2 separate regions of the Homo sapiens genome follow, and region 2 is linked to region 1. The links come from fine-mapping of genetic effects on gene expression. A gene starts in region 1. The other region holds a variant in brackets. All regions are shown on one strand. Distances are from middle to middle.

Region 1 (5,368 bases):
GATATACACTGATACCTATGCTGTTAAAGACAGATGGACATGCACATAGCCAAATGCATGTTCAAATACACAAACACAAACACACGCCCCAACAGCCATCAATTAATAAAGAGAATTATACATGGATATCCAGACACATGCAACACACCACACACACACACCTACACATACACCAGTTCAAGGACACATGCAGATACCCAGGTACAAACTATTAAAGACACACACAGGCTAGGCGCAGTAGCTCACGCCTATAATCCCAGGACTTTGGGAGGCCGAGGTGGGAGGATTGCTTTAGTCCAGGAGTTTGGGACCAGTCTGGGCAACATAGTGAGACTGTGTTTCCACAAAAATAAAAATAAAAATAATTAGCCAGGCACGGTGGCACATGCCTGTGGTCCCAGATACTCAGGAGGCTGAGGTGGGAGGATGGCTTGAGTCTGGGAGGTTGAGGCTGCAGTAAGCGCTGATTGAACCGCTGCACTTCAGTCTGGGTAACAGATCAAGACCCTGTCTCAAGAAACAAAACAAAACAAAACAACAACAACAACAAAAATACACACAGTAACACATGCCTAGATACATGCACATACACACGCAAACACACACTCCAAAACACACCCATTCATAGACATGCCACACACTGCTACAGACACATGGGCAAACACCTGGAAATCCCCACCCCTCATTACATGAGTCTCTGACATGATGACCCCACAGACACAGAGCCAAAGGGACGCACAACCATTTCCACAGACACACTCTCTTGTGCCAAATTCCAGGGTCATGAAATAGCCACACTGTGACCTACTGCCCAATACACAAACTCTCAGGAACCCACAAGAAGAAATGAACATACTCATACACCCAGTTTTGCAGACACTCCTGTGTGCTCCTAAGTGCACACAGACACACCTGGGCACACAGGACATAGACTCTGAGCCACATGCATAGAACACACACACAATGCAATAGTCACCACCAGATTTGGAGAAAGACCTATGGACAGCAGGGGTCACAAAGACCAGGGGACAGAAACACTCCTCTGGGGCACACCTGGGCACGGGAGCACAGATTTCCCAGTCCTTCCAAGCCCAAGCACTTTCCCTCTGGGCTCAAGGTCCCCAGGCCACTTTCACTCTCCCTGATCTGCTGGAATGGGAATCAGGGGTGGGGGTGGGGGGACGCTGACTGGTTGAATCCCTTAGTAAGAACTTTGGCAGCACAAGGACTGGACTGTCTTTGCCCACAAACCCAGGGGCCTTCTGGGGATGAGGACTCCCACACTCACTTTCTCCCCCCCTCCTGACTCCCACTTCTGTGAACAAGCCCTCTGCACACTTCCTTGCTTCCCCCATTGTGAGAGTCTGCCCCAAGGAGATGGGCCAGGGGGACACCAGACAGTGGACTTCTAAAGTGCTCAGGGGGTCCCCCAGCGTTAGGAACTGGAGGGGGGGTGGGACAGGGAGAGGGGCTGCGCCTGCACTTAGCTAAACAAGCCTGGCAGTGAGGGCGTCCTGAGTGTGAGCCCGAGTGCCGAGTTGCATCTGATTGTATGGCCATGTGTGTCGGTGTGACCCAGGCCGTCTGTCTGAGGATGTCCTCGCGGCCACAGCTGTGTGCACATGTGCAGGGATGTGTGCGTGTCCGTGTGAGCACTCCTGGAAGTGGGTTGAAGACAGAGGAGCGGGCGTCTGTGTACCATTATCAGTGAGTGCGTGTGCTCACAGCTCCTGAGGGTCCCCGGGGAGAGTCTCAGTAAAGACGTGTCCCAAGCTTTCTGAGCAAGCATCCCTGAGGTCAGGGGCGCGCGTGTGCGCTCCGGAGAGGGTGGGAGCGGCCTGGAGTGTGGATGCACAGGGTGTGCGCGCCCTGAGTGCCTAGCGGCCCTTGGCCGGCCAGGCGGCTGGACCTGGTAGGCCGGGTGCAGAGCCCCGGGTACCCTCCTGCCCCCTGCGGCGCTCCCGCCCCCGTCGCCACCCCCTGCCCCCCCGCAAAGTGATGTCGAAATAAAAAGCCGCGTTGCGGCCGGTGGGGGAGAGAGAGGCAGCGTGAGCGCCAGGAAGGTAGCGAGGCCAGCGTCGCCCCGGGACTCGCTGCTCAAGTCTGTCTATTGCCTGCCGCCACATCCATCCTAGCAGGGCCCCGTCGCCCACCAGGCGGACAAAAGCGGTCCGCTGAACACCATGCGGCCGCTCGGCGTGCCGCCCAGGCTCTGCTGGTGAGCGCCGCCACCCCGCGCCCAGGTCCCGCGAGCCCGCCTGCCGCGCACCTCGCCCTGCTCCCAGCTCTACTCCAGGCCCCGTCCGCCCGGGGGCGCCGCCCACCGCGCCTCGCTCGGTGAGTTTCTTCCACTTCCACCTTCCCTGGGCCCGGCCCTTCCCGCCCCCGGCCCGGCCCGCCTGGCACCCGAATCGCTTGGTCCGTTTGCCCTGTGGCCCCTACCTTTGGGGCTCGCCTTGGCCCTGCCAGAGACCGGAAACCCTGGTTATAGGGACTTTAACCAGAGGGAGTATTTGGTTACCTGGGCACAGCAGGCCCGCCTCGGGCCTCTTGTCTTCCCATTTCTCGGAGCCACAGGCCACGAGACCCTGGCATTCCCAGAGCCTCGCAAAGCACCCCCGCCTCCCGGCCCCCGAACTGGGGCCTTTGTCTCGGCCGCCCCCAATCCCCAGGCCACCGCGGCGGATGCGTCCGAGCCGGGCCGCCGAGCGGCGGCTGCACCTGCCGGCTGGTCCCGTGCGCCGGCTTTTCGCGGCTTAACCCAGCTCGCTCCTGCTTGCGCCCCCGCGCGCTGCGCCCCGCAGCCCTTTATCCTGTGTGACTGGGGTGCGTGTGGGGGAGAGCGCCGGGTCTGGAAGTCTCCCCCCGCCCCAAGCCGGAGTCGGAATCCGTTTAGTGGGATTTCAATAAGAATGGGGCCGCCGCGGGCTTGAAGATCTGCCGCCGGTAGGCGTAGACGGCGTTCTGGATCTGTCTGAAAACGGGGCATTTAAAATTATTCTGTGGCGGCCAGGCTTGAACTCCGCGTTGCTCCAACCACGAGGGGAAAGGCCCCGCGTTCAGGGACCCCGTGTGTGGCGAACGCTCCTTTACCGGAAAACAAGGAAGGAAATTCGTTGTTTTGGAAAAAGCCTCCTCTCCCGAGGTCGGGAACATCTGGTGGTGAGCTCCAGGTCTACGCAGGCACCCCGTGCTAGGATTCGTTTATGAGCAGGCAGGATTCGAGAACCAGGTAGGGCCCGTGCGGCAGCCGAGGCGTCTGGGGAGCGTTTCCCAGCCGGGCTGACAAATTGCAGACAAATTGTGCCTAACGAAACGGATTTACCAGTTGTCAGGCCGCCGGCCCCGGCCGCTCCAAATAAACCGTGGCTGTTCGTGGAGGAGGGAGAAGCACGGCCCGATTGTCTCCGGGTCTCAGCAGGGTTCCGCGGGGAGCCTGCCAGGCTTGAAGGTAGGGGTCAGAAGCGATATAGAATCTCGGAGGCGCCTGGGTCCAGGGTGCCGAGACACCTAGGACGTGGGGGCCACAGACTCTACGATTCCCAAAGACACAGAACAGTAATGAGGTGGGAGAGCCTGCACTGATGCCGAGGGAGGGAGCCTTCTGCTTTAAGGGGCTGGAATTGAACCTCAAGGAGCAGGAGGGGCCGTTATAGCAGTAGTCCCCCCCTTGGGAACCCCCCCGGAGGGATGGCTGCTGGCCTGAGATCTAATGCCCCGGCTTTAAGGGAACTTCTGAACCCATCTGCTAAGGCACCCCACTTCCTCCCCGTACCCCTCAAGGTTTATTGCCAGTGTGGGGCTGGGAGGCCGCTGGGTTGCGAATTAAATTTCTCTATGGAAGGTAGTCCCTTAGCAAATGGGTTTCCTTGACACCCCACCCCCAGCCCCACACCGCGGGCCAATTAGCTGCCCATAAGGAAAAGGCGAGAAGAATTAGGTTACAAAGGGAGGGCAAACTTATGGTCCCAAAGGGGCCGCCTCGGATGAGCTAACTTTAAACAAAGGGCTCAGAGGGGGGGGGGGGCTGGACGGCCGGGGAGACCTGGGCATCTCTGTGTCCCCACCTGGCACCCGCGGCTTAGTAGAGGCCTGAGAAGCACTCTAGAACCGGGCACCAGATCTGCTACCTCCCCAGCTCCCAGGCAGAAGCACCCAGGTCAAATGGTGGCGATCGCCGCTGTGAGTTCTCGGGCCAAAAGGGTCCTTCGAAAATTCTGCTTCCTGGCTGACCTTCTCCAGTCCTCAGAGAAATCTTGTTCCCAAGTAAGGAAAGTGACAGCTTCTTAATGTGATCAAAGGCAGCGCCAGCATTTCCAACTATACTCCCGAACGAACAAAGTACTGAAAAAGGGAACGCGTCCCTCTAAAGGTGTTTTGGGGACCCCAAAGTTCCAGCCCATAAATTGGAGTAAATCTGCTCTCACCAGGCCTGGAACAGCGCCTCAAGACCCCAGCAGATTCTGGGGGCTGCGTTGACCCTCCCCGGGAGTTTGTTTGGGGCCCAAGGTGGGAGGACCATGTCTTCGGCCTAATGGGGAGGGGCCCGGTTGGTGTCCCTCGGTCTGCCTGGCACACACAGACATTGTCGAGCGCGGGTCCCTCTTTATTGGCCAGCTGGGCGCCCTGCTACTTGGCGTCGCATTTCTCTCTCCCAGGCGGGTTCGTTTCCGCCAGAGAATGCAGCAGTCCCGCATCCTACGCAGGACCTGCAACCGAGGTGGAGGCTTCGGTCAAGCCGGCTCCTGCCTGCGTTGTCGAGGAAGGCAACCCCAAGGCCTGAAAGGACCTGGCAGAACTCCTGTTTCCTTTTTTTCCTCTACACCGGATTGCGGGCAAGGAGGCTGGTTCGGGTCTCCCGAGGCCCCTGCTCAAGCACTCCTTAACCGTCCTGCTAAGCCCCTCTGTGCGGCGATTTTCTGAGCTGCCGAGCGGGGTAATTAAATCCCCTCCCTCGCTCCGCTCTGCGTCAGGCAGGCGGCAGCACAGGGCTGACGTTTGGGCAGGGGACTCAGCCAGGCTGGCCACCTCCACTACCGCAGTGGCCGGGACCCTGCCGCGGAGGGGTTAGACGCCGAGCTCGCTGCGCTGAAACTGGGAATACACACGGAACGGGGAGGGGGAGGGTAATTTTTACCGCGCCGGTGGGAGAAAAAGGCGAATTACCTGCTTTCCCGAGGGACGCGCGTAGCCACTTCCCTGAGAGCCGCGGCACCGATCGCGGCCGGGCGGGAAGCTTCCGCTCGGTCCTGGCGTTCACAGCCCAGCGGCCAGCTGCTGGTCTGCCTCCCGCGCTGGGTCCCAGGGTTCGCGCTCGAGCGGGGCAGCTTTGCCGGACACGGGGGATTATCCCTGGGGACGCGGTGTC
Region 2 (5,368 bases), 110 kb before region 1:
AGCCATTCAGCCTGTGGTACCTGGGCTTCACCTGTTATTTTGGAGATTGCGTATATTGGTTATGTTTTTCTGCCTCATTCTTTTCTTTATTTTTAAACTTTTGGCCGGGCAGGGGAGCTCACATCCACAGTCCCAGCACTTTGGGAGGCCGAGGTGTGGGCAGATTGCTTGAGCTCAGGAGTTTGAGACTGGCCTGGGCAGCATGGCGAAACCCCGTCTATACAAAAATCAACCAGGCATGATGGCTTGTGCCTGTAATCCCAGCTACTTGGGAGGCTGAGGCAGGAGAATCGCTTGAACCTGGGAGGCAGAGGTTGCGGTGAGTTGAGATCGCGCCATTGCATTCCAGCCTGGGTGACAAGAGTGAAACTCCGTCTCAAAAAAAAAAAAAAAATTTAGCTGGGCGTGGTGGCAGGTGCCTGTAGTTCCAGCTACTCAGGAGGCTGAGGCAGGAGAATCGCTTGAACCTGGGAGTTGGAAGTTGTAGTGAGCCGAGATCGCACCATTGCACTACAGCCTGGGTGACAAGAGTGAAACTTCGTCTCAAAAAAAAAAAAAAAAAAAGCACTTTGGGAGGCCGAGGTGGGCAGATCACGAGGTCAGGAGATTGAGACCATCTGGCTAACATGGTGAAACCCTGTCTCTACTAAAAATACAAAAAATTAGCTGGGCGTGGTGGTAGGCACCTGTAGTCCCAGCTACTTGGGAGGCTGAGGCAGGAGAATGGCATGAACCTAGGAGGCGGAGCTTGCAGTGAGCCGAGATCGCGCCACTGCACTCCAGCCTGGGCGACAGAGCGAGACTCAGTCTCAAAAAAACCAAAAAAACAAAAAAACAAAAAACGGGCTGGGTGCGGTGGCTCACGCCTGTAATCTCAGCACTTTGGGAGGCTGAGGTGGGTGGATCATCTGAGGTCAGAAGTTCGAGACCAGCCTGGCCAACATGGTGAAACCCCATCTCTACTAAAAATACAAAAATTAGCCGGGTGGCAGTGGTGCGCGTCTGTAATCCCAGCTACTGAGGAGGCTGAGGCGGGAGAATTGCTTGAGCCTGGGAGGCAGAGGTTGTGGTGAGCTGAGATCATGCCACTGGGCTCACTCCAGTCGGGGTGACAGAATGAGACCCTGTCTCAAAAAAAAAAAAAAGAAGGACATTACAGTTTTTAAATGTTGCCTCTAAATTTGCCTGTGAACCAACTATTGGACAGAATTGATGAATTATTTTGTCAGCGATGATAATGTGTTTTGACTATACAGAAAAACTTTATTTTTTCACTTGTGCCCTGGAGTATATAAAGGTGTATGAAGACATGATGGCTGTGTTCTACTGAGAAATATGTCAGCATAAAACATAAAATGAATTAAGGTTTTCTTCTGCATAAAATGAATTAAGTTTAACCTCAAATCGGAGCTTCACATCAGCGTTCCAGAGATAAAGGTCATAAAGTTGAGGACTGGCTGAGAAAGAGGGTGGCTCTAGGGCAGGCCTGGGGAAGCCGAGGAGGTAAGGGACTCAGGGAGGGAGGGGCCCAGGCCCTGGCAGGGGGCAGCAGGTAGAGGAGGGTGGCTGGGGCTTCAGAAGGACTTGTGAGCTGGGTGCTGTTCTAAGCACTTCTGCACAAACTAACTCATTTCATCCAAGCAATGGCCCGAAGCGGTGGGAACTGTTATTGTGCCCATTTCAAAAATAAGGAAACTGGCCTGGCATGGTGGCTCACACCTGTGATCCCAGCACTTTAGGAGGCTGAGGTGGTCAGATCATCTGAGGTCAGGAGTTCAAGACCAACCTGGCCAACATGGTGAAACCCCATCTCTACTAAGAATACAAAAAAAATTAGCTGAATGTGGTGGTGGGCACCTGTAATCCCAGCTATTTGGGAGGCTAAGGCAGGAGGATCGCTTGAACCCTGGAAGCAGAGGTTGCAGTGAGCTGAGATTGCACCACTGCACTCCAGCCTGGGTGATAGAGTGAGACTCTGTCTCAAAAAAAAAAAAAAAGGAAACTGAGCCAAAAAGAGGTTAGGACCTTGCCACAGACACTGGCAGGGGACTGCAGGAGTGGGGACAGGAGCCCAGGAAGCCTGTCTTTGCTGTTAACCACCAGCTTCACCTGGCGGGACCACAGGTGGCCTGGAAGTTTTAAAGTTGCATTTATTTATTTATTTATTTATTTAGATGGAGTTTTGCTCTCGTTGCCCAGACTGGAGTGCAGTGGCGCGATCTCGGCTCACTGCAACCTCTGCCTCAAAATGATTCTCCTGCCTCAGCCTCCCTAGTAGCTGGGATTACAGGCGCCCACTACCGTGCCCACCTAATTTTTTTTTTTTTTTTTGTATTTTTAGTAGAGATGCGGTTTCACTATGTTGGCCAGGCTGGTCTCCAACTCCTGACCTCAGGTGATCCACCCACCTTGGCCTCCCAAAGTGCTGGGATTACAGGCGTGAACCATCACACCTGGCTTGCATTTATTTATTATTTTATTTTCTGAGTTAGAATCTCGCTCTGTTGCCCAAGCTGGAGTGCAGTGGCATGATAACAGCTCACTGCAGCCTCAACCTCCTGGGCTCAAGTAATCCTCCCATCTCAGCCCCCACCTCTCTGCTCCAGTAGCTGGGACTACAGGTGTGTGCCACCACACCCAGCTAAGTTTTTTTTAGAGATGGGGGTCTCACTATGTTGCCCAGGCTGGTCTTGAACTCCTGGACTCAAGTGATCCTCCTGCCTTGACTTCCCAAAATGTTGGGATTACAGGCGTGAGTCACTGCTCCCGGCCTGTATCTATTTATTCTGAGAAGTGATATAACATTGCAGAAAGTTTTAAAAATAACAAAACCAAAATGAACAAACAAAACATTTCCCCACAAAACCGCATTCCCACCATGATCATTTGGGTGTGTCCTTGCCCAGTGGACATTTTCATGAACATAACTTTTTCTTTTTTCTTCCCCTCCCTTTATCTGTTTTTTTTTTTTAATGACTTTCTAAGACTAGATTTCCAGAAATAAATGAACAGGGCAAGGGGGATAGTTTATAAAATATATTTTTAATAGTTTCTGGCAGCGATTATGTGAGGCCCAAACTGAAAGTAGGGGACTCTCATTTGTGGAGGTTCACAGATCAGAAGATGCATCTCAGATCACTTTCGGGAAGCTTC[C/T]GGGCAGTGCCGTTTGTCGGTGTCATCATCGTCCTTATCGCTGACAGCCATCTTCGCTGCATTATCTGCAGCCCTTTCGGGAAGTGCCAGGGGCTTGGTAGAGAGGACCCAGCCCCAGGCTCGGCCTGCCTTGGGGCAGATGCACGCCACAAGCATGGAGCCCACGGAAGAGCACCCTCAAACCCAGGCAGCCCTGTGTGCACGGCCTGGGGAGCAGGGCTGAGGGCCCTGAGACCTGAGATCGCAGACGCCAAGCCTCCTGGGGCCCCTGCTGTGTTGGGGGGGTGGACTGCGGAGGTGCCATTCTTAAATACCTGGCTGAACATTACCCCCCTGGGGAGGAGCAGTGCGCAGCCGTTACCACATTGAGAGGGAGCTTTGGCCCAGCGGTGCTGCACATAGTGAACAGGACAGGCGTCTGCAGATGGACTGCACGTGAACATTCTGCATGTCCACAGAATAAGACTTGAGGCCCTTCAATTTATTTTCTATTTTCCAATTTTTGATGGAGACATGGGTACCAAGGACTATGCCTCCACCACAAGCAGACCAACAGCATAAGGGCCCTTAAAAATGAAAACAGTAGGGTTGGGTGTGGTGGCTCACACCTGTAATCCTAGTACTTTGGGAGGCCTGAGATCAGAAGTTCGAGGCCAGCCTGGGCAACATGGTGAAACTCCATCTCTTCTAAAGTACAAAAAATTAGCTGGGCGTGGTGGCACGTGCCTGTGATCCCAGCTACTTGGGAGGCTGAGGCAGAAGAATCGCTTGAACCCGGGAGGCGGAGGTTAAAGTGAGCTGAGATCGCACCGCTGCATTCCAGCCTGGGTGAAAGAGCAAGACTCTGCCTCCAGAAAAGAAAGAAAACAGTAGTTCGGCTGCAGGTGGCGGGGACTGGGGCAAACTGATGCTCACATGTTTCACGCAAAGAGGTAGCTGCTGCTCAGCACTAGCTGACTGGGGATCTGTGAGAGTATGGGCCTAGGGCTGGCAGATCTACTTTTTTCCTAGAGAAATGTGAAATTTGGATTTTAAAAAGTGCAATCCTTTGATATTTATATGTTGACTCAGATGTGTTTGAATCACCATGTAGGCCTGACAAAGCTCGCTGGAGGGCTGCACCAGGCGTGGAGAAGCAGCTGGGACAGCAACATCTGTCACCGGTTGGTATGGCAAGGGCTGGGCACTCACAGGAGCCTGAGAAACACCAGTGTCCACCCTGCCCATCTTGGTTGTGGGGGTTGGAAGAAGCAGCAGACCCCTGCCCTCACCCATGAGTCTCAAGCATGGCCCTTGTGTTTTGGAGCAGGGGACCTAATGAACTGCTGGCTTTCTAGAATGTCTGCCCAGGGCCAAGGCCACCACCCCCTGCTGGGCATCCGGCCCCAGTGCCCAGGGCATGGAGGGGGCTGAGAGGACAGCACCAGCAGGGTGATGTTGTCTTCTCTCTCCAGGGGTTAGGCCCTGCAGCCAGGCAGACAGGCTCTAGCCTTAGCTCTGCACTCAATCCTGTGTGAGCTGAGGCTTCTGGTCCCGGAGGCCCTGCTTCTTCATCTCTAAAATTGGGTGCACGATGCCAGCCTCTTAATATTGCTCGAGGATGAGAGTAGCTTAGTGCAGAGGGCACTTAGCCTGGTGGCAGGCACGCAGTGGGTCTCCCTAAACACTACTCTCCCCCTTGCCACTCCTCAGTCCCAACTCGGTGAGCAGAGATCTCCCTGGCCAACCTCCTGGCTCAATGACCTTTGGCAGATGACTTACCCTCTGTGTGCCTCAGCTTTTCCATCTTTGGAGTGGGGGGACTCATAGCAACTACCTTGTCAGGAGTAATGGGACAATAGACCTAAGACCCTGCAAGCAGGACCGCTGCCTCTGCTCCTCAGTGCTTCCTCTGATTTCTGGTCTCAGTGAAGCCATTTGTATGTAGGGATTAGGTGTTAGACTTCAGCTTTCCTTTTCCTTCCTTCCTTCCTTCCTTCCTTCCTTCCTTCCTTCCTTCCTTCTTTCCTTCCTTCCTTCCTTCTCTCCTTCCTTCCTTCCTTCTCTCCTTCCTTCCTTCCTTCCTTCCTTCCTTCCTTCCTTCCTTCCTTCCTTCCTTCCTTCCTTCCTTCCTTTCTTTCTTTCTTTCTTTCTTTCTTTCTTTCTTTCTTTCTTTCTTTCTTTCTTTCTTTCTTTCTTTCTTTCCTCTTTCTCTCTCTCTCTGTCTCTCTCTCTT

What was found. PIP is the estimated chance that this variant, and not a neighbour inherited with it, causes the effect.
Region 2: its variant is the best candidate, but not a certain one, in a credible set for the expression of GATA2 in whole blood (INTERVAL, PIP 0.52).

The regions. Positions count from the first base shown.
Region 1 is chr3:128,489,868-128,495,235 of GRCh38, reverse strand. GATA2 (GATA binding protein 2) reads left to right here and starts at 2,035. Exons shown (of 6, transcript NM_032638.5): 1 at 2,035-2,337. GATA2-AS1 (GATA2 antisense RNA 1) reads right to left here. Exons shown (of 3, transcript NR_125398.1): 2 at 5,167-5,368. RefSeq lists a silencer at 2,236-2,325 and enhancers at 4,097-4,906, 4,907-5,368.
Region 2 is chr3:128,596,940-128,602,307 of GRCh38, reverse strand. No RefSeq gene overlaps it. Among named protein-coding and RNA genes, the nearest start is that of LINC01565, 24 kb to the right of the region's middle. The variant C/T (reference allele first, on the strand shown) is at 3,154.